Linked DNA regions of Homo sapiens: region 2 is linked to region 1. Evidence: fine-mapped expression QTL. A gene starts in region 1. The other region holds a variant in brackets. All regions are shown on one strand. Distances are between the middles of the regions. Region 1 holds the start of XYLT2 (xylosyltransferase 2). Region 2 has its middle 16 kb from the start of TMEM92-AS1.

What was found. PIP is the estimated chance that this variant, and not a neighbour inherited with it, causes the effect.
Region 2: its variant is fine-mapped to the expression of XYLT2 in whole blood (TOPMed, PIP above 0.99).

What each region holds. Positions count from the first base shown.
Region 1 is chr17:50,337,448-50,349,859 of GRCh38, forward strand. XYLT2 (xylosyltransferase 2) reads left to right here and starts at 8,679. Exons shown (of 11, transcript NM_022167.4): 1 at 8,679-8,828. The coding sequence starts at 8,694. RefSeq lists silencers at 8,466-8,665, 8,726-8,825, 8,896-8,985, 9,801-10,095.
Region 2 is chr17:50,297,755-50,308,982 of GRCh38, forward strand. No RefSeq gene overlaps it. Among named protein-coding and RNA genes, the nearest start is that of TMEM92-AS1, 16 kb to the left of the region's middle. RefSeq lists an enhancer at 5,282-6,264. The variant A/G (reference allele first, on the strand shown) is at 4,547.

The sequences.
Region 1 (12,412 bases):
AATTTCCTATTGTTTATTTCTAAGAAACTGAATTTGTCAGCCTTTTTCTTCAGTCTCTCAGTTTCCTTGGACTTTGGCGACAGGTTTGCACAGGCCTACCCACTGAGGAACAATGTCACATTAAAATTATCTGAAAAGTTGTAAGTAAACACAAGTAGAATTTTAAAAAGAATTCTAGAGCTAGCACAGTGGTGCACACCTGTAGTCCCAGCTACTTGGGTGGCTGAAGAGGGAGGATCACCTGAGTCCAGGAATTCAAGGCCAGCCTGGGCAATATAGTAAGATGCTCCTTGTCTAAAAAAAGAAAAAAAAATTTTTTTAAAGAATTCTAATTCTTGCTTTCTAAATTATTAAGGAAGATTATAGCAGACGAACAGTCTATATAGCCCTGAAAGGAAAATTAACAGCAAAATGCGTTTAAGGCCTAAAACTCAGGCGCAGTATTAAATGCTGATACTGACTTTATATGCGGTGAAATTGGGAGGCTTTGACTGGCCTAGCCACAAGTTCACCTCCTCACTCTGCTCCCTTGGATAAGGTCCCCCAGCCAAATAACCCCCCTTATCAAGGGGACCAGGAGCACTTCCTGCTTATTCCTGAGTAGTGGGTTTCAGTTTCCTGCCAGCCTGCAGCCTGCATAATTATCCACATAAGCCAGTCACATCTTCCTGCTGAAACTAGGGGACATCTCATCCTCTTGATACTACAAAGCCTGCCTCCCACAGCCCTTAGTTGCTCACTGTCTCTGAGCGCAACCCCTGTGTGGCCCTGCATGGTGTGTGATATCCTGCCCTGGGCTATGAGTATATGTGACTAATACACTACTGTCAATCTCATCTGCCCAGAATCAAATGTCGTGTGTTTGGCCATCTCTGTAAACCTAGGATGGGAATCCCTCCCTCACCAATGGAGTGAATAGCACAGAAAATATTAAGGAAAGCCATTAAGTAAGTTGATAAAAGCTGTACCAACCCTGGTACTGCTGGAAGAGAAAAAGGAGAATAGAAGATTTTACCAATCCAACAGAATATAGTAAAGGGAAAAAAAGTGGAGAAAGAAGGCAGTGAGCAGAAAATGTGGAATAATCATAATCAAAGAAAATCCAAATAATCCATTAATGGCACTAAATGTAAACTGATTAAAGAAACAGTAAAACTTAGAGTATCAGATTGAGTTTTAAAAATCAAAATCCTCTTGTATGTTACTAATATTTTCCTTGAATTCTGAAATAATCTCAGCTATCATAGCTTCAATATTATTTCCTTGCCATTTTCCTTATTTTCTTACTCTGGAAATCCTGTTATACATAGTTTGAGTCTCTCAATCTATTCTCCTACTCTTCAAACTGTTCTTATTTTTAATCAAAGTACCTCTTTTTGCTGCATTCACTGTCAATTCTTTAGAGCTATCTTCCAATTCACTAATTTTATCTTCAACTATATCCAGTCTAAAGTTCACCCTATCTTTTGAGATATTTTTATTGCTTTTCTACATTTTTATTTCTGAGATGTATAATTATTTATATTTCATATGTATATCTTCATTTCATTTTCATCTACATTTGTTTCATAATTTCTTGTTTGTCAGATGATTTCTTCATTTACTTCTTTGAGCCATCCTTATTTTCAAGTCTTTGTCATATGAGTCCAAGAGATGAATTTCATGTGGAGAAAGTTCATATTCCAGTTGTTGAATTGCTTGGCTATCTTTTTTATCATTCCATTTCTTCATGTCCTTTGGAATTTGGGTTTACAGGCTCATTGTAGCTGAGAATTTTTGTTTTTGCATTGTGCTTTTTACTCTCTCCTTTTTTGTCTGGTGGGTTTAGTTTCGTCATGGCATTCACTGTGCCCTAGTCCAGAAATAGTTTTGTGATAGTGGTTGGGAACTCATGCTCTTCACTGATATTGGGAGATGTGCAGACCCAGAGTTAGAGGATGGCTTGACCTAAGTCTGGGTTGTGAGGCTGTTTTTGTTCTGCAGCCTTCCTAGGTCCACCATTTGGGCCATAGCTCCTGAGATCTGGTCAGCTGCACTTTTTGTTTTCAGTCTCCTTTCACAAGCAGGGTAGCCTCACTCTAGTCTGTGGCTGCTGCCAGAGTCTGGTTCCATCCCCCATTCCCTGTGCAACATTTTAGTTCCCATTACCCCATAGGCCCTTGGCTTTGGTCCTACTCACCACTTTGCTTTCCAGTTTGTTCTCTTTCTTATCCACCTAAATGTTTATCCTGTTTTTAAGCTTGTATATATCTTATCAATGCCTTTAAAAACTTTATCTCTCATTGTTAAGTATTTGGAGAATAGAGAGTGGGTCAAAGTATGAACTTTCCAACCTTCCCCTCATTATTTTATTTATTAATTTATTTCTTTTTTGAGACCGAACCTAGCTCTGTCACCCAGGCTGGAGTGCAGCGGCCTGATCTTGGCTCACTGCAACCTCCACCGCCCGGGTTCAATTCTTCTACCTCAGCCTCCTGAGTAGCTGGGATTACAGGCACGTGCCACCATGCCCAGCTAATTTTTGAATTTTTAGTAGAGACAGGGTTTCACCATGTTGGCCAGGCTGGTCTCAAATTCCTGACCTCAAATGATCCACCCCCACTTGGCCTCCCAAGTGCTGGGATTACAGGTGTGAGCCACCACACCTGGCCTCATTAATGTTTCAGTCACTTGGAATGGAGTGGAGACAGAGTTTCTACTTCTCACAGTGGAAATATACTAGCCAATAGAATCTGGGGGTGAAAGAGCTGAGCACTGAGACTGCAACCCTGGGAGTCCAAGTAATGGGCACTTTGTCTAGGCTTAGTAAGCAGGTCAAGGAAGTGGATCAGAGGAGCAGTGAAAGCCCGTATGGGCAACTTCTAATTATGGACCAGCTTCCTATAGCAACCCCATGTAGAAGTAAGATGATTTGCAGGAGCAGAATATTCCATCACCAGTGCTCTTCAGCTTGGGTGTGGAAGCCCAGTTCATATCCCCGGGTGAATTACACGTGCCCACCCCACAGGCTTTTTAGACAACTAGAGGACCAAAGAGGAAGCGAATATTGCATATGGGCTCTCGGCTGGCTAAATAGAAAAATGAAAGATATGTGGACCTTTCATTTTTGGAACACTTCATACTGTTGACATACAATATAAATAAAATAACTGCAAAAGAAAAATAAGAGAGATGCAGTGGAGTGTTTACATTTTTCTCTAGAATAACATTCATAATGACGATGTTGATTCTGTTAAGTAAGAATTATAGGAGGCCATTGTTTTGTACTGAGCTCCTGCACTAGGCTCCAACAGACCAGACTAAAAATCAAAATGGATTCACTCATGCTGGGGTTTCAAAATTGATATTTTGTCCTTTAATACCTCTATTTTCCCCCTATTGGTTATTTTGTGCTATCAGAATTTTGTGCTATTTTTTGGCAGGAGATGGGAGGATGGTCAAAAGTCAAAATTACAACAAAAATAGTTTAAAGATCTTAATTGGCTTTATTTGTGATTCTAGAATCAGGCAACACTTCACCCATAAAATAGAAAAGTATTCCAGGGAGCCCAGCAGAGGAGGTTGGGCTTACAGACAGAGAAGGGCTGAAAACAGCAGATGCAATGAGCAAAGAGCATCTTCATTAATTTTCAAAGTTACTTTTTTGTGGTAAGGCAGGAATATAGAGACAGAACAATAGAAAATAACTGATGAGTGAACATCAGGTTACTTCAGGCTAACTTTGTAATGTAAGGATTAAAGCAGAGGGAACTTATGCCAATTAAAATTTTAAACTGGCCTGTTTGGGAAATTGGCCATTATTTCTCTCTCTTGATTTCTCACAAGGTCAGATAGTGACTCCATTTTGATTTTTAGTCTGGTATGTTGGGGTCTAGCACAGGAAATTAGCCATATATATATACTTTTTTTTTTTTTTATACAGGATCTCCTTCTGTTGCCCAAGCTGGAGTGCAGTGGCACAATCATAGCTCACTACACTCTCAACCTTCTGGGCTCAAATGATTCTCCTGCCTCAGCCTCCCTAGTAGCTAGGACTATAGGCGTGCACCACCATGCCTGGCTAATTTTTTTTTATTTTTATAGAGACAGGGTCTCACTATGTTGCCCAGGCTAGTCTCAAACTCCTAGGCTCAAGCAATCCTCCTGCCTCAGTTTCCCAAAGTGCTGGGATTGCAGGTGTGAGTCACCATGCCTGGCCCTCCTATAATTTTTATTTAACAGAAGTTACCAAAGAATTAGCTCTCAAAGGGCTCCTGTTAGATGCTTTTGCTAGCAAGACTTTTCAAATGCTTAAGGAATAGCAGTGTCTACTGTTACATAAATTATTTCAAAAACAGAATTTAAAAAATGCTCTTCAACTTATGTTGTAGACTGGAATAACTGATTCCCAAATCTACCAAAGCTTTAACAACGAGAAAAGAAAACCACAAACTGGGGGTGTCTACAAGAGCCAGAAAATAACATAAATGGGTGCAGCTGATTGGGTATGAAATGAAAGGAAAAGGTGGGAGCTGCAGGCACTGGTGAGTGTGCACCCCTTCTTCAGGAATTCAAACTCAAATGCTTCAAAACCCTGTGCTGGTCAAATAAACAAGGCCTACAAGTTACCTCTGATTTTGCAGCTTCTGGTATATCTCCATTACAAACATAGATGTAAACATTCTTAGGCCGGGCATGGTGGCTCATGCCTGTAATCCCAGCACTTTGGGAGGTTGAGGTGGATCCCTTGAGCCCAGGAGTTCGAGACCAGCCTGTGCAACATAGTGAGACCCTGTGTCTACAGAAAATTTTTTAAAAATTAGCTGAGCATGGTGGTGCACCTGTGGTCTCAGCTTCTCAGGAAGCTGAAGCGGGGGATCACTTGAGTCCAGGAGTTCAATGTTACAGTGAGCTATAATCATGCCACTGTACTCCAGTCCAAGAGACAGAGTGAGACCCTGTCTCAAAATAATAAATAAATAAATAAGACCAGGTGCGGTGGCTCACACCTGTAATCCCAGCACTTTGAGAGGCCCAGGCCAGCGGATCATGAGGTCAAGAGATTGAGACCATCCTGGCCAACATGGTGAAATCCCATCTCTACTAAAAACAGAAAAATTAGCTGGGTGTGGTGATGTGTGCCTGTAGTCCCAGTTACTCGGGAGGCTGAGGCAGGAGAATCGCTTGAACCCGGGAGGCAGAGGTTGCAGTGAGCCAAGATTGTGCCACTGAACTCCAGCCTGGCAACAGAGCGAGATTCCATCTCAAATAAATAAATAAATAAATAAATAAATAAATAAATAAATAAAATATTAGTAAATCCAATTGAACTTATACTACAACTTAAAGAAAAAAAACAGCTGCTAATACCAAGTAACATTCATTCTAGGGATGCAAAAATGTTTTAATATGTGGAAATTATTTTTAAAATATTTCATAATCTCATTAGGTCATGCTAGAAAAACCCATATGATCCTTTCACTAGGTGTTAGAACTTCCTGACAAGCAGGGACCCAGGGATCCAGAGCTGGCGTGGGTGTGGACTGGCAGAGGGTACACGCAAAGGTAGCATCCAGAGGGAAAGCCAGGATCAGGGCCAGCAGACAGCCTAGTAAAGTGTCAATCAGAAGGAACTGGATGGATAAGCAGAAAGCAGATAAAGGCCACGGGACAGAGCCCGAGGAGATGCTTGGAGGCACAGCCTGGAGGTTTTCCTGCAGGGACCTCCATGCCTGCTGGTGTTGGACCAAATTCGGACTCTAGCTGCTGCAAATGCATTTGAAAACATTCAGCATACATGCCTCATAAAGTAGCCCTAAAAATGAAGACTATAAGGATCATTTCTTCACATAAGAAAGAATATATCATGCAGGCAGCCCAATTATGACTAAAGACTGCTTTCCTATTCTGCTTTTCTGAAAACCATTTTGTATTTTCAAGACTTTTTACAATAAAAGAAAAAAGCACAATGGAACCTATTAGAGAACCCGAAGAGGAGACAGAGGGAAACAATGATTCTTGCAATTTATATGGTGAAATCTAAGCCAGTCTATGCATGCTATACCTCAATAATCTGGGATTTTATTTTTAATTATTTTTTAGAGACAACTTGCCATGTTGCCCAGGCTGGTCTCAAATTCCTGGGCTCAAGCGATCCTCCTATCTCAGCCTCCTGAGTAGCTGGGAATTACAGGCACCACAATAACCAGATAACGAATTTGTTTAAAAAAAAAAAAAAAAAACAACAGTGGGCTGGGCTCGGCGGCTCATGCTTGTAATCCCAGCACTTTGGGAGGCCGAGACAGGTGGATCACAAGGTCAGGAGTTTGAGAATAGCCTGGCCAACATGGTGAAACCCCGTCTCTACTAAAAATACAAAAATAAGCCGGGCATGGTGGCGCGCACCTATAACCCCAGCTACTCGGGAGACCAAGGCAGGAGAATTTCTTGAATCCGGGAGGCAGAGGTTGCAGTGAGCCGGGATTGTACCACTGCACTCCACCCTGGGTGGCAGAACGAGACTCAAAAAAAAAAAAAAAAAAAAAAAAAAAAAAAAAAAGCCAGGCGCGGTGGCCACGCCTGTAATCCCAACACTTTGGGAGGCTGAGGTGGGCAGATCATGAGGTCAGGAGATTGAGACCATCCTGGCTAACACGGTGAAACCCCGTCTCTCCTAAGAATACAAAAAAAAAAAAAATTAGCCAGTCGTGGTGGTGGGCGCCTGTAGTCCCAGCTACTACTTGGGAGGCTGAGGCAGGAGAATGGCGTGAACCTGGGAGGCAGAGCATGCAGTGAGCCGAGATCGCGCCACTGCACTCCAGCCTGGGCAACAGAGCAGACTCCGTCTCAAAAAAAAAAAAAAAAAAAAGAGAGAAATGGGGGAAAGGAAAGGAAAGGATAGCCACTAAAATGTTAATGATGATCATCTTAAGGGGTGGGATTGTAGGTGACTTTTACTTTTTTTCTTATTCGTTTAGTGTTTAAATGTTATATAATGGATATTTATTACTTATATAATCAGTGAAAAATAAAGCTATTTTCATTGTTGTGGGGGGAATTCTTGGCAGGTAGAAGTCCCTAGAGGATCTGATTTAATGAGCACACAAGATCAATATTTAATTAACATATCAATTGCCGGGATGTCAACTGATGTTTTCCAAAATCATTGAAGTGTAGGCTCTCTTAAGTAGCCAAACTGTCGTCGGAAACATAGTTTACAATTCTCCCATTTAACAAACGCGGAGGAACAGAATGATTACAAATGCTAAAGCGCAGAAGACGATTAAAGGAGGTTATTTATGTACCATCAAATGCTTGTGTATCCTGTACACATCAGTTTAGAATTCTCTCATCAACCCAACCTTGTGGCAACTTCCAAACCCCTCCATCATGGCCTTCTAACTTTTCAAACTTTTTTTTTTGTAAGCCACTTCTCTTTCCAGACCTCTCTGTAGTGGTTCCTAACGTCTTCCCTTTAAACCTTCTAACTTGTGTTTGCTATTTTTATGACTTCCTCCTCCCAGTGCCTGGCTTCCCCAGCTGGGGATTCACCTTGCTTTGGTGGCCACTGTTTTGCTCTTCTCGCCTTCCCTCTCTCCATGGGCCTGCCAGGCTTAGGGAAGGCCGCAGGTGCTTAGACCTTGTCCAATGCGGTGCTCATTGAACACGCCGGGTTCTCAAACAAATGTTAGGGACAGCTGGTTAGACGGGAATCTGGGCCTCCCCTGCTTGCTTTCCGCAACATTTCTTGAGCATTGCTGGGTGTCCAAGGCAGGGCGAGATCCCAGAGCAGTCACGACCGGATGTATGATTGGTGCTCACTGCACAGTGCTGGGGACGCACAGGGAGGATGCCACTGATGGTGTAGGGGGTGGGGACTTGGCAGAGGGAGCAGCATGTGTCGAGGTCTACTGGTTCTCCAAGTTTGGTCCCAGAGCAAAGGCATCAGCATCACCTGGGAACCTGCTGAAAATTCTAATGCTTAGGCCTCACTACCGACCTACCAAAGCAGACACTCTGGGGGAGGGAGGAGGGGCACTAAAAATCTGTTTTATCAAGACCTCCAAGAGACTCCAACACACGCTAGAGTAGTTTGAGAACCACGACTCTGGGAGCGGCCTGAGGATGCTTAGGATGAGCGCAGAGCGGAAAGGAGGATTCGTGAAGGCTCTCTGATGCCAGTCAAGGGGTTAGACTTTGCCCCGCAGGTGCGGCCTCCAGGTTTTTAAGCAGACGCCTGTGGCTCTCACACGCCCTCTCCCAAGGCGGCGTCTCTGGGAGCCCTGGCGTTCCCTGGGCCCCCGGGACCGAGAGCTTACCCGCGTGGGACTGAACTCGCCCACGACCCCCGACACCAGGCAAGAGAGGTTGTGCCGCAGACCCTCCACTCCCCAGCACCAGGCGCTCGCCGTCCAGGTGGAGGGGAGCACACGTGGGAGCCAGGGGCACCGGCGGAGACACGAGCGCAGAAGGCACGCGCTCAAGCCCACGCCCGCGACTGCCGGGACTGAAGGTGTTGCGAGCCCCGGCTCCACCCCTAGCCTGCGGTGCGCCGTGCTTTGGCCCCGCAGGCCCCGCCCCCGGCCCCGCCCCGGCGCGCGCCCGGCCCGCCTCCCTAGGCGTGGAGGAGGGGGGGCGGCTCAGCCCCGCGCCCGTGCGCGCGCTCGCGGCCGGGTTGCAGGGCTGGGCGCGCGCCCCGCGTCCCGGGCAGGAAGATGGTGGCGAGCGCGCGAGTGCAGAAGCTGGTGCGGCGCTACAAGCTGGCGATTGCCACGGCGCTGGCCATCCTGCTGCTGCAGGGCCTGGTAGTGTGGAGCTTCAGCGGCCTGGAGGAGGACGAGGCGGGCGAGGTGCTCCGACGGCCGGGCGGGCGGGCAGGCCGGGCGCGGGGGCGCGCGGGGTCCTGGCGGGGCTGCGGGCGGCCCCAGCCGGGGAAGTGGGGCACGGGCCGCGTGCGTGCGTGCGGGGCGCCGGCGGTCGCCCAGAGCGGAGCATCCGGCCCCCGGCACTCCCTTCCCCAGCAGGCCTAGGGAGCTGCGCGCGGGGGCAGTGCGTGACCTGGAGACCCGGGCCCTGGTGGATTGGGAGTCGGGCGGGGGGAGCAGGTCATGCTAGGGTGGTCTCCGGCCAAGGGAGCGATGAAGGTCAGGCGCGGCGAGCGGGGCTGGGAGGCGGGGCTGGGCCCGAACCTGCTCGGAGGTGGGGAGCCCCAGGCCAAACTTTCTGAAGTTGGGAGGGGGCGGGGATATGCGCGCCGTGGGCGGAGGAGTAGGGCCAAGGGACTCAGGGCGTCCTTCCCCAGCTGAGCCCGAGGGGCAGCGGCCGGTGAGGAAGGGGAGCTCGGGGGTGGAATTCAGGCCTGGGACAAAGTGTGTACCCGGGAACTGAAGGAACAGGGAGTGACGCCGAAGGAGAGAACTGGAGTATTCCCGAGGTGTGGCTTCCTCAGCCGGGGGTTTGAAGAACCTGGATGGGTCTCCGGAGGGCAGGGAGAGGAGGAACTGAGCTGGTGAGTTGGCCTCAGGACCTTAGGGAATTAGGGAGGGGCCCTCTGGCTTTAAGGGAATGGGGACTGTAACAGAGCCCCAGCCGCAGAGCAGGGGCAACCAACAGCCGTCTCAGCCCCCAAGTCCCTGCCTCGAGGGTCTTTCTCCCTCTTCCCCGATGTGGTTTCAGCGGGAGGCTCAGACACCTCAGCGGTGTGGTGAGGAAGGGTCCATTGGGTCTGGGTTCGTGCTGCGGAGATGGAGAGGACAGGCCACACCACAGCCCTAAGCTGTGGCCCAGAGGTCAGGACCTCCCTGCCCCCAGCGCCCCTGTTCTGCTGCCTCCAGGGCTCCGGGTCAGAGACTCTATCTGCTGCTGTCCTCCGGCAAGCCCCGATACCCGCGACCCCTTACCGCATCTCGCCAGTCTGGAAGGCCTGGTGTGGAGACAGAAGAGCTGCCCTTGCCTTTTTTTGGGAGAACCCAGAGGGTGGGATGGTGATGGGGGCTGGAACAGAGTCACATGAGACCATAACTCCAAAAGGAGGTGGGGGCGGGGGTGGGGCTGGCTCCGTGACATCCGTGGGGTGTAGACCTACAAGTAGGACAAGCAAGTAGGAGAGTGTTTCAGGCCCAGTGTAAGAAGACTGTTTGGGCAGATGGGACATTCCAAGATGGAATGGGCTGCCAAAGCAGTTAGGGAGCCCTCTGACCCTGGAATATGTGACCACTCTGGGCTACCGCCCCCATCCCCCACCACCTCCTCCTCCAGCTTCCTGGCTGAATGAATAGGGGAATCCTGGGCTGGAATGTTTGAAAAAGCTTGTGCGGTCCAGGCACCCATTGCTGCTTGGACCCCCTCAGCTGCTCCCTCACCTGACTCTGGGGTTGCCAGGCAGCATAACGGGGTGCATGGGAAGGTGAGTGCTGAAGCTGGACCACCCACTTCACCACTCTCTTCCAGCTCTGACCCTGAGAAGACCACCAGCAAATCACTTTGCCTCCTCCCTTATCCTTATCAGTATCCCTCCTCAAGATGGGGATAATAATGGCACCTCCCGTGTTAGGTGATTATAAAGATTAAGTGAAAATGATGCCTGTGAAGCACTTGCAGGAGTTCCTGGCACATGCTCAGCTGTCAGTAAATAAATAACTCTTATTATCCCAGCACTGTGCATTGGGAATACGATTCATTCATTCATTCATTCATTCCACAAATAGGTGTGAAGTCCTACTTTGTACTAGACACTGTGCTAATACTGGGGATACAAAAATAAAATAGATGAGGTCTCTGCCCTCATGGACAGGTAATCTACAGAGAGAAACAGACAGCGAAAAGGAATTTAATAGAATTACAAAGGGGTTGGCTTAGATCAGGGGGTCAGGAAAGGCTTCTCACAGGAAGAGGTGGGCAGGAGAGTTCAGGCAGAAGGCCTGAGGAGAATGGGCTTAGCTGGGCACCCTTGAGGAATGGACAGGAGGGTGTGGTGCTTTCCCTGAAAGAAGGTTCCATTCTGTGCGGCTGAAAGGACCAGAGCAAGGGGCAAGGGTTTTATTCTAAGTGCAGTGGGAGAGCACTGAAGGGGTTTAAGCAGCACAGGATTCAGTGTGCATTTAAGACGTGCACTCTGCCCATCTATGGAGAGGCTGAGAGTGGATCCCAGGGATGGTCACGAACCTCCAGAGAGCCACTTTATAGTTTCCAAAGCTTCCACAAACACCATCTCACCACTTGTTTTAAATGCAGCCCGAGAAGTCAAAGGAGGTGGGGTATGGGGGGAGCATTTCTGTGTTCACCCTTTCTGTGACTCAGAGAAGGATTCTAAGGTGGAGCTACAGAGCCAGGAAGTGGCAGAGGATTTTAATCGCCTCCTTGGAGGAGAGGAAGGAGCCTCTGAGGCCAGAATGTATCCCAGCCAGAAGTCAGAGGACCATTCCCTACCCTCAGTCATCAGAAGGGCTCCTGACCTCAGGGGCTGCTGGGGGCAGCCTGTGAGGGGCACAAGGCTGGGGCTGTGATGACGATGCTCCTTGGACATGCCTGGAAGGGATGGAGGTGGGGGCTGACTGCCCACCAGGGCCTCTGCTCCCTCACTGCTGCCTCCTCATCCCCCAGCCTCCTCTGGGATTGTCCTTCTCAGGGTCAGCCAGCTCCCACTGCAGTGCAGGGACCAACATGCCCATCTCCTCCCACATCCTGGCCCCCACCACAGCCAACCTGGCCCCGTGCCTCATGCCCTGCCCTCCTGACCAGCTTCCTAACTCACTGATACTGGCTTCCACTCGGAGAGCCTACAGCTCTCTGCCATCTACCCACCTAAGCTTGGGAATGTCTTTCTCTGCTTGTGCTCTGTAGCCAGCTCACATGTCACCAGGCTGATGCACACTCAGCTCAGTGGGGCTGCATTTACCTTTCCTAGGGATTCCCCAGCCTGTGGTGCCCTCCCCAGTGTGGGTAGAGAATAGGGTCTGCTGCCTCCTCTTGCAGGTATCTCTTCTCGGATGGGAATGGGCGCCCCCAGCTCCCACTGGCCACCTTTAAGAGATCAGAGGGCAACCGGGCACTGTGGCTCATGCCTGTAATCTCAGCACTTTGGGAGGCCAAGGTGGGAGAAGCGCTTGAGTCCAGGAGTTCGAGACCAGCTTGGATAACATAGCAAGACTATCTCTATTAAAATAAATAAAATAAAAAGATCAGAAGGCTGGCTGGGTGCTAGGCACAGAGGGCATGGATGTAGGCATGGGGCTCTGGCCTGAAGGTAGCTGTCAGCCTGACAGCATGAGGTTCCTGATGTGCCCATACTGGTAGTGGGTAGGGTGTGGGTAGGGTAGTGGGTAGGTTGGGGGAAGTCCTGGGGAGGTGAGGAGCACAGAGAACCCAACCCAGCCGAGTCCAAGATGTCCAGGATCTTGGGTCTCTCTTGACTTCACGTTTGACTAATTTCCTC
Region 2 (11,228 bases), 40 kb before region 1:
AATCCCAAGCACTTTGGGGGAATGAGGTGGGAGGATCGCTTGAGCCCAGTAGTTGACCAGCCTGGGCAACAAAGCAAGCCCCCCATCTCTACTAAAAATTAGCCAGGCATAGTGGTGTGTGCCTTTGATCCTAGCTATGTGAAAGGCTGAGGCAGGAGGATCGCTTGTGTCCAGGAGGTTGAGGTTGCAGAGCTGTGTTTGAGCCACTGCATTCTAGCCTGGGTGACATCGAGACCCTGTCTCAAAAAAAAAAAAAAAAAGAAAAAAAGAAAAGCTGGTTTCCTGGCACATTAGTGGCCAAGAAGGCTCAATGACAAAGCGGGGAGTTTTAACGACTACAGCTCTAGTCTCACCTTCTACAAAAGAGGAAACTAAGAGCCCTGCACTGTGGTGGAGTGTTTTTCCCAAGGCAGAGCTACACTGCTTCCCAAGGCAGGATGTGGCTTAGGGACAAAGTCACATTCGAAGGCAGGCCCCGAGGCCTGATTCCAGGGTTGCTTTATAGCACCGCTCAAAAGTGTTGTCCTTGGACCAGCAGCCTCAGGTCAGCTGGGAGCTTGTTAGAAATACAGGATTGCAGACCCCGCTGGCAACCTACGGACCCAGACTCCGCACTTTACCAGATCCCCCAGGAAATCCGGACGCCAGTCAGAGCCAGTGCGAGGGACTGGTTTAGAACACACTGCCTCTCAATGTTTTTAGGAGGGCACATGAAGATAGTTTTATTTCCCCAAGTGGAAATCACAGTATTGTTTATTCCTTTTTTTTTTTTTTTTTTTGAGATGGAGCTCTGTTGCCCAGGGTGGATTGCAGTGGTGCAATCTCTGCTTACTGCAACCTCCATCTCCCAGGTTCAAGGGATTATCTTGCCTCAGCCTCCCAAGCAGCTGGGAATACAGGCACCCGCCACCACACCTGGCTAATTTTTTTTTTTTTAAGTAGAGACGAGGTTTCACCATGTTGGCCAGGCTGGTCTTGAACTCCTGACCTCAGGTGATTTGCCCACCTCAGCCTCCCAAAGTGCTGGGATTACAGGTGTGAGCCACTGCCCCTGGCCAGCATTGTTTATTCTTGGTTATAGTAGTTCTGCATGCTCACTATAAAAAAATCAGACAATATAGGATAATTTAAAGAAGAAAGCAATAAATATTGTGTTGTGTAAATATCCTTCTGGACATTTTCTATACACACACACTTCTTTTTTTTTTTTTTAGATGGAGTCTCGCTCTGTTGCCCAGGCTGGAATGCAGTGGGGTGATCTCAGCTCACTGCAACTTCTGCTTCCTGAGTTCAAGCAAGTCTCCTGCCTCACCCTTCCAAGTAGCTGGGATTACAGGCATGCACCACCACACCCGGCTAATTTTTGTATTTTTAGTAGAGACGGGGTTTCTCCATGTTGGCCAGGCTGGTCTTGAACTCCTGACTTCAGATGATCTGCCCACCTTGGCCTCCCAAAGTACTAGGATTACAAGTGTGAGCCACCGTGCCTGGCCCACAACATTTTTACAAAAATCAGATTATGTGTGTATCCTCCATATTGTCTTGTCGCCTTTTCTTTCTCTTCTTTTTTTTTTCTGAGACAGGATCTTGCTCTGTTGCCCAGGCTGGAGCGCAGTGGCATGATCACAGCTCACTGCAGATTCAACCTCCTGGGCTCAAGCAATCCTATCTCAGGGTCCCGAGTAGCGGGGACTACCAGGGTGTGTGTGTGTGTACATATATATATTATATGTATACATGTGTGTACATATACACACACATATAAATATATATACATATATAGATTGTATATATATATTTTTTTATTTTGTAGAGATGAGGGTCTCACTATGTTGTCTAGGTTAGTCTTGAACCCCTGGGCTCAAGTGATCCTCCCACCTTCACCTCCCAAAGTGATGGGATTTCTGGCATGAGCCACCACACCTGGCCAGCCTTGGATATGATTTCTCTTTTTTTTTTTTTTTTTTTTGAGACGGAGTCTTTGCTCTGTCGCTCAGGCTGGAGTGCAGTGCTGCAATCTTGTCTCACTGCAACCTCCGCTCCCTGGGTCAAGTGATTCTCCTGCCTCAGCCTCCTGAGTAGCTGGGATCATAGGTGCACCACAACACGCCTGGCTAATTTGTTTTGTTTGTTTGTTTTGTTTTTGTTTTTGTATTTTTAGTAGAGACTCATGCAACTGCAGCTGCTTGGGTCACTCAGGAGCCCTCATGACCATCACCCACCCCTTTTCCCTGCCTGGAATTCTCCTCTGCTCACCCACTCCACCCCTCCCTCCACCCTCACCCAGTAATTCCTATCTGCGTTTAGGCTTGGCCTGAAATGTCAGCTCCTGGGGAGGCCTGGGAACACTGAGGCTGGATCCCCTTGGCATTCACTCCTCTAGTGCCCTTTCTTTTCTCCTTTGGAGACATTTATCACAAATTCATGAAGTTTCCACTTGAATAAGAATTTGTTTATGTCTTTCTTGTCCTTGAAAGCAGGGCGTGTGTGTCTCTGGGCTTAGGGACCCCTCTGTGCCTCACACTTTGTACAGGGCCTGGCACATAGCAGATGCTCAGAACATGCTTGTGACAGGATGAAATGAAGGGGTGGATGTTGCGGGTCCTCAGTGCACACTCGGCTTGGGTTTCTACTTGATCGTGTCAATCAAGCTCAGATTCAGAGCTGCTAGGGAACTGAAGGTCTCTTTGGGGGCACTGCCTCTCAGCAACACTATTGCACAGAGGGATTTTCTGATTACAGCACCAGAAAGAGCTCACCCCAGGTCTGGTACACAGAAAGCACTCTGCAGGCCAGGTGTGTTGACTCATGCTTGTAATCCCAGCACTTTGGGGAGTTGAGGTGGGCAGATCACCTGAGGTCAGGAGTTTGAGACCAGCCTGGCCAACATGGTGAAATCTCCTCTCTACTTAAATACAAAAAATTAACCAGGTGTGGTGGCATGTGCCTGTAGTCCCACCTGCTCGGGAGGCTGAGGCAGGAGAATTGCTTCAACCTGGGAGGCAGAAGTTGCAGTGAACCGAGATCACTCCACTCCACTCCAGCCTGGGCAACAGAGCAAGACTCTGTCTCAAAAAAAAAAAAGAAGAAAGAAAGAGAGAGAGGGAAAGAAAGAAAGGAAGGAAGGAAGGAAGGAAGGAAGGAAGGAAGGAAGGAAGGAAGGAAGGAAGGAAGGAAAGAAGGAAGGAAGGAAAGGAAGGAAAGAAGGAAGGAAGGAAGGAAGGAAGGAAGGAAGGAAGGGAAGGAAGGAAGGAAAGAGGAAAAGAAAAAAGAAAGCACTGTCTGGAATAGCAGCTCCTTGGTGGTGGTGTGGAGGCTGGCACGGGTGTGCCCCCACTTGCTCCAGCTTGTAACACCCTCAAGTTTCCATGTGTCTTTGCCTCTTTCCAGACAGGCCACACTGAACAGCATATAACAGCACATATTCCAAACACAAGCAGGGAGGTGGTGCTGTAGGGTGACTTCATGGTTTATTAAACATGGACAGAGAACTACTAATGTGCCAGGTACTGTTCTGACCCTAGGTCCACAGAGATGGTGAAGACAGAAACTCTATCACAGTCGCTCACAGCCTAGAAGCAAGGAGACCAGTCAGTACAATGCAGTGGAATGCATGTCATGGTAGCGGTGAGTTCAATGCCAGGAGTAGGGGGACCACAGAGGCAGTGAGTGCCTCTGTAGTGAGCAGAGGCCACACCCTTCCAATGTTTTTTGTTGTCGTTGTTTTGTTGTTTTTGAGACAGAGTCTCATTCTCTTACCCAGGCTGCTGGAATGCAGTGGTGACATCTCCGCTCACTGCAACCTCCACCTCCTAAGTTCAAGCAATTCTCATGCCTCAGCCTCTTGAGTAGCTGGGATTACAGGTGTGTGCCACCACAGTCAGCTAATTTTTATATTTTTAGCAGAAACAGTGTTTCACCATGTTGGCCAGGCTGGTCTCGAACTCCTGACCTTGGGTGATTTGCCCACCTTGGCCTCCCAAAGTGTTGGGATTACAGGCGTGAGCCACTGCGCCCGGCCAGCCCTCTTAAAATCCATCCAAACGTTCCCATATCTCTTGAAATAAAATAATTTTTAAAAAGGTATCCAAGGTCTGGGATGGTCTGGCCTCTCCCAACACCCACACCCTCACCTCCCAGCCTTGTCCTCTCGCTCTCTGTATCCAGCCACATCATCATTTTCTCAGCCCCTTCCATGTGCCAAGCTCTGTCCCACCTGGAGGTCCTCACAGATACTGGTTCCTCTGGCTGGAACCCTTCCCATGAGCACATTTTTGTGACTGGGCACGGGCATACACGAGGCTACTGAACAAACTGCTTTACTTCAGCCTTCAGTTCTGTTCCCAGTGCCCCGTGAAGGGTAGGCCCTCAATAAATATTTGCTGAGCAGACTACCTTTTATTCCTCACATTCATGGCAAACAGTTTCCCTAGATTATGGCTTGCCCTTAAATTTATTGTTTCTTTAACCTTCAGAAGTTTTACATTTTGATGTCGTCAGATCATCCAATCTCTCTTTTGGGGTTTCTCTGTTGCTTTACACACAG[A/G]AAGTTTCAGAGGTTTCATAACGGCTAGTGCCTTGAGCAAGGGCCCAAGTTTGAGGGATTTGAATCAGAAGGAACAGGAAGCTGATAACCTTGGTAGAAGCTGATGGAGGGAGTTGTGTGGCAATACCAGGTGCAATGGCGATATGGGGTTAGCATGTCTTGGGTGTGGCGTTCTTGGTCTAGCATTTTCCTCACGGTGCTCACCAACTCCTTAATGGGTCTGGAAAGTATTAACACCCTGGTATGTGTTAAGGAAAAGCAAATCAGAGCCCACTGTTTGCTAGGCATTGTGTTAAGCACTGGGGAACTGACTTTTTTTTTTTTTTTTTTTGAGACAGGGTCCTTCCTCTGTCACCCAGGCTGGAGTGCAGTGGCCCAATCATAGCTCAGTGTAGCCTCCAACTCCTGGGCTCAAGCAATCCTCCCACTTTAGCCTTCCAGGTAGCCAGGACTACAGGTGTGTGCCACCTGGCTAATTTTTTAATTTTTTACAGAGGTGGAATCTTGCTATGTTGCCCAGGCTGGGGAACTGACTTTAAAGGTAAGAATCAAAGAATAGAGCAGTAGTTTATTATGTGCAGGCTGTGTGTGTGTGTGTGTGTGTGTGTGTGTGTGTGTGTGTATAAATGTGTCTGTTAGGGATTCCAGACAGAGGGAAAAATATCTGTGAGGAGTCCAAGGTGGAATATAATCAGACGGTCCTCATTAAATCCCAAAGGAGGCTGCAATCGCCAGCTCTCTCATTCAAAACTCAAAGAGAGGTTTTGAGGGAAGGCAAGGAGAGGACGTTATTGACCATGATGTGTGGCCACATTCTTGAGGGTCTCAGCCCAGCCCCAGTTGCCTTAGAGGACAGGACCAGGCTGCTTTTAGACTACAGCCGCCATGACTCTCCACACGCTGCGGCAAGAGTTAAGGCAAAGCCGATAGTACAACACAGCAGTTGTCCCAGGTGAAGCCCTTGTCAACAGGCGTCCTGCGGCTTTGTGACTGATTGTTCTATCCTTGGCTCGGAGAAGGGGCAGCCATTTGATGTTCAAAAATACCTGTAAGCGGCTGAGCTTAGTGGCTCCTGCCTGTAATCCCAGCACTTTGGGAGGCTGAAGCTGGCGGATCACCTGAGGCCAGGAGTTTGAGACCGGCCTGGCCAACATGGCGAAATCCTGTCTCTATCAAAAATGTAAAAATTAGCCGGGTGTGGTGGTGCACTACTATAATCCCAGCTACACAGGAGGCCTAGGCAGGAAAATCACTTGAACTTGGGCGGCAAAGTTTCCAGTGAGCCGAGATCAAGCCACTGCACTCCAGCCTGGATGACAGAGTGACACCCTGTCTCAAAACAACAACAAGGAAAAAACCCTGTAACCTACAGCCATTTAGGTGTAGGGTAGAGCATTTAACCTCATGGGGTGGATAAATCAATCAAAGTGCTGTTCAGGCCTCCCCAGTCCTTAGTCCAGCAAGGTGACGTTGGCAGAGGGTCTCTCACTGCCCGGGGGAGACAAGTGAGAATAAACGACAACACAATGACTCCCAACTGTGGGCATTTAAGCGGGAGCCAGGCCTTGTGCTGAACAAGCAGTTCCCTTGTGTATAACCTTAGATGGTGGGTGTGGCTCTTTATTTTCTTTTTTTACAACTTTTTTTAAAATCTTTTTTTTAATCTTTTTTTTTTTTTTTTTTTTTTTTTCTGAAATAGTCTCGCTCTGTAGCCCTGGCTGGACTGCAGTGGCGCTATCTCGGCTCACTGCAACCTCCGCCTCCTGGGTTCAGCAATTCTCCTGCCTCAGCCTCCTGAGTAGTTTGAACTACAGGTGCCCGCCACCATGTCCAGCTAATTTTTGTATTTTTATTAGAGATGGGGTTTCATCATATTGGTCAGGCTGGTCTCAAACTCCTGACCTTGTGATCTGCCCACCTCAGCCTCCCAAAGTGCTGGGATTACAGGCATGAGCCACCGCACCCAGCCTCCAAAAAATTATGTTTTTTGAATCATAAGGCGTGACTCTTATTCCCACTTTACAGATAAGAATGGGATGCTTAGAGAGGTTTGCCCCGAGTTGCTTAGCTATAACTGCAAAAGTCCAGGATTCAGACCCAGATTGCCTGCCTCTGTGGCCATGCGAGGAACTGTAATGCCCTGTGGTCTCCCAGATCGTGGTGAAGGAAGGAACATGTCTGAGGACCAGAAGTGGACACACACGAGGCAAGATTGGGAACTCAATGTCAGATATCTCTCGGGGAAGAACATGACTTCTGAGACTTTGACTCAGAAAAGGATGGGCTTCATGGGGATGCTGGGATGCCACTCTGCAGGCATTTCTTATAAATATCTCCTCTGTCCTGTTGCAGGGCTGGAAGAGAACGATTTCAGTAGCATTAGGGCTGTGTAGGCTGCAAATGAATAGCAGGAGCTGGCTAGCCACATACGGACAAAAGTGGGGAAACACTGGCATAGTGGCTGTTAAGAAATATGGGAAGAAGGCTGATGTTACATGCTGTCACACACAATGTCACATGCTGTTATATGTGATGTTACATGCAGTTACATGCAACATTACGTACAATGTTCCATGCTGATGTTACATAATGTTACATCATCTTACATGCACTGTTACATGCTGATGTTACATAGTATTATGTGCATGGTTACATGGTGATGTTACATATTACATGCTGTTACATGAGAGGAAGTCTGTTGGGCTGTCTGCTGTGTGACAGCTGGCAGAGGGAGGCTGTCCCCAAGGAGTATACAGGGCAAGGTGCCCAACTAGGCTGAGAGAGGCATGGGCATCCAGTCCTCACAAAGAACAGAGAGGGGCCACCTCCCCTTGCGGCAGGCCCCGGGCTGCCTGCCTGGAGGAGGGGAACCCCAAAACGTGGGCTGGAGACAAGTGAGTGGGAAAGGAATGTGGTGAAGCACTCAGCTAGCGATCTGGGAACAGTGGCGAGCGCCACAGACTCATTCACTGAACTGTGAGACTCCAGGAAGCCTTTGTGTGTCTCTGTGCCTGTGTGTTTATAAACTTCTTCCCTTCCAAGTTGGAATCAAGACTTATTTGGCAAAGAATGTTGTCCTTGGGGAGGGAGACTGCCCAGAGGTGGAAAACATGTAGATGAATTCGTTTCTTAGAGTTCTAGATATGGCTTATCTGTCCAAGGCTCTGGCATTTTTCTAAGATAAATAATTGGATTGTTCAAACTGTGAAAATGAACATAGTGAAAACTTTGGAAAACTCTTAGTGTATGAATCTGGGGGGTCTGTACTGATTTGAAGTGTGACAAAATTGGGGCTTCCATCATTTTTTCTGTGTGTTGAGCGGTTTTTTTGTTTGTTTGTTTGTTTTGTTTTTGAGATGGAGTCTTGCTCCTGTCTCCCAAGCTGGAGTGCAGTGGCCTGATCTTGGCTCACTGTAACCTCTGCCTCTTGGGTTCAAGCAATTCTCCTGCCTCAGCCTCCTGAGTAGCTGGGATTATAGGTGCCTGCCACCACAGCTGGCTAATTTTAGTACTTTTAGTAGAGAAAGGGTTTCACCATGTTGGCCTGTCTGGTAGAGACAGGGTTTCACCATGTTGGCCAAGCTGGTCTCAAACTCCTGACCTCAAGTGATCCACCCTCCTTGGCCTCCCAAAGTGCTGGGATTACAGGCGTGAGCCACTGCGCCTGGACTGAATGGTTTTTTTTGAAGAAAATACAGTTGTACCCCGCACTATAATTTTTTATTGGATGAGACTAGAAATATGACCTTATATTGTTAGCTTTGTTTTAATTAATTGGTAGACTCTTTTGAGAGTAGTTTTAGGCTTATGGAAACATTGAGTGGGAAGTACAGACAGTCCCTCATATTTCTCTATCCCCTATGCCCACAGTTTCTCCTATATTAATATCTTGCATTAGGGTGGTGTATTTGTTACAACTGAGCCAATGTTGATGCATTATTATTAATCAAAGTCTATCATTTACTTGAGGGTTCACTCTTCACATTGTACATTCTATAGCTTTCGACAAACATAATGATATGTATCCACCATTATGGTATCATATAGAATAGTTTCACTGCCCTAAACATTCCCTGTGCCACACCTGTTATTAATAGCTTTTTCAAAGGAAGATTTAGATTTCAGTGTTTTTCCCTTCCACTTTCTTTTAGAAAGTAGAAATTCTGTTGCATCCTTCCCAGTCACATTTCTACCTTGCTCGGCACTGCTCTCCCACACACACATTCTAAGAAGCTGGTCAAAATAATTCCTCACTGTCAACCTCCAAAGGGATGGCCAGGAGATGCTCAGCACCTCAATTTGACATGACAGGCCCTTTAGGAGTTGAGATGTTTACATGACTGTCCCCTGACATTGTAATGGGAGGTCGCTTCCCATGGTCCCAGCTCAGGAGTCCCGGGTGGTTTTCATTCCACTCATCCACATACGGGTATTGCTCTCAGTCAGAAGCAACAGAAACCCAACTCAGGCCGGGTGCGGTGGCTCACACCTGTAATCCCAGCACTTCGGGAGGCTGAGGCAGGCAGATCACGAGGTCAGGAGTTTGAGACCAGCCTGGCCAACATGGTGAAACCCTGTCTCTACTAAAGACACAAAAAATTAGCTGGGTGTGGTGGTGCATGCCTGTAATCCCAGCTACTTGGGAGGCTGAGGCAGGAGAACTGCTTGAACCCGGGAGGCAGAGGTTGCAGTGAGCCAAGACTGAGTCACTGCACTCCAACCTGGGCAACAGAGTGAGACTCCATCAAAAAAAAAAAAAAGAAACCCAACTCAGACTAACTTAGTCAGCAGGAGAAATTTAAATACCATAACAAAGACACCACTCAGAACTGGCCCTGCACAAGGTAAAGTCTCCATGGTGTCTAGTGGGGCTGGGTTAGCATCAATCTCCAAAGGACCCCTTGATCTTTTTTTTTTTTTTTTTAATAAAGCCTGGGTCTCACTCTCGCTTTGTTGCCTGGGCTGGTCTCGAACTCCTGGGCTCAAGCCATCATGCTGCTTCAGCTCCCCAAAGTGCTGGGATTGGGTCTTTGTATCTTGATGAGATGATAGAGATGACAATGACTTTTATCTTTTTTGTTTGTTTTGAGACAGGTTCTTGCTCTGTCACCCAGGATGGAGTGCAGTGGTGCCATCACGGCTCACTGCAGCTTTGACTTCCTGGGCTCAGGCCATCCTCCCACCTCAGCCTCTGGAGTAGCTGGGACCACAGGCACATGCCACCATGCCCAGCTAATTTTTGTATTTTTGGTAGAGATGGGGGGGGGGGGGTCTCACAATGTTGCCCAGGCTGGTCTTGAACTCGTGAGCTCAAGCAGTCCACCTGCCTCAGCCTCCCTGAGTGCTAGGATTTCAGGTGTGAGCCACCGCATCTGGCCCTTTTATTTGTTTCATTGTGCCAGGGCCTTTAATCTCTTTCATTGTTTGAGGGGATTGGTCTTAATCTAGGAGGGCTGCATATCTCCCCAGGTGCACAAATACAAAGTCAGGTTATTTCCTTCTCCTCTGGCCTTTTGTGCCTTTCCTTGTTAAAGGTCCAGTTCACTTACCTCATCTTTGTGAAGTTGCCCAACTCGGGCAGTTGAGTTGACTTGTAAAGAGGGTGAGTTTGACCCCCACACTTGCCGCAGGGAGACGGTTAGCTGCCTCTCAATCCTGCCAGGCTAGTTCTTCCCCTCTGTGGCTGGAAACCCAGGCAGGCCCCTGACAACTCTGGCCATCTTTTCTCCAGTCCCTTCAGGTCACAGAACAGTGTCAATTTAGTCATTAAAAGGTCTGATTCTGCAAAAGAGTGAAAACATCAATTCCCCTTGCAGAGAGATGTAGGAGACCAGAATATGCCACCCCAAACTGTGCCCCTTTGGCACAAGGATTATTTTGAGTTTAAGACAATTGAGATGAAGCAGATATAAGGAGGCCTCTGCTCTCCCGCTATTTGCCTAAAAGTAGGACATAAACTTACAAAGGTGCCCTCCCCCCATCTACCAGGAAGGACAAAGTTTGGCCACCAGAGACAGCTTTAGACCCTTATCAGCAACAGAACAATCTCCATAACAAACCTTACAAGCTAGCCTCTATATACAATTTATTTGTGTTCTCACAATCTGCCACCCCTAGAGATTCCAAGTCCTTTCCCCTGGTCTTGTTATTTGTCTAAAAATTTATTGTGGCTGGGTGTGGTGGCTCATGCCTGTAATCCCAGCACTTTGGGAGGCCGAGGTGGGTGGATCACTTGAGGTCAGGAGTTAAAGACCAGCCTGGCCAACATGGGAAACCTCGTCTCTACTAAAAATACAAAAATTAGCCGGGTGTGATGATGGGCACCTGTAGTCCCAGCTACTCTGGAGGCTGAGGCACAAGAATCGCTTGAACCTGGGAGGCAGAGGCTACAGCGAGCTGAGATCATGTCATGGCACTCCAGCCTGAGCAACAGAGCGAGACACCATCTCAAAATAATAATAATAAATAAAAATAAAAAATAAAATAAAATAAAAAATGTACTGTTCTTTGTTGAAGATGCTGAAAGTCCCTTCTGTGGGATTTACTCATTCCCTGGGCATTTCCCATGTTTATCTGAAATATGCATGTTAATAACCTCCTATTTTTTTTCTCTTGTTAATCTGTCTTTTGGCATAGGAGCCCCAGCTAGTAAACCTAAGGTGAGTAGAAGGAAAAATTATTT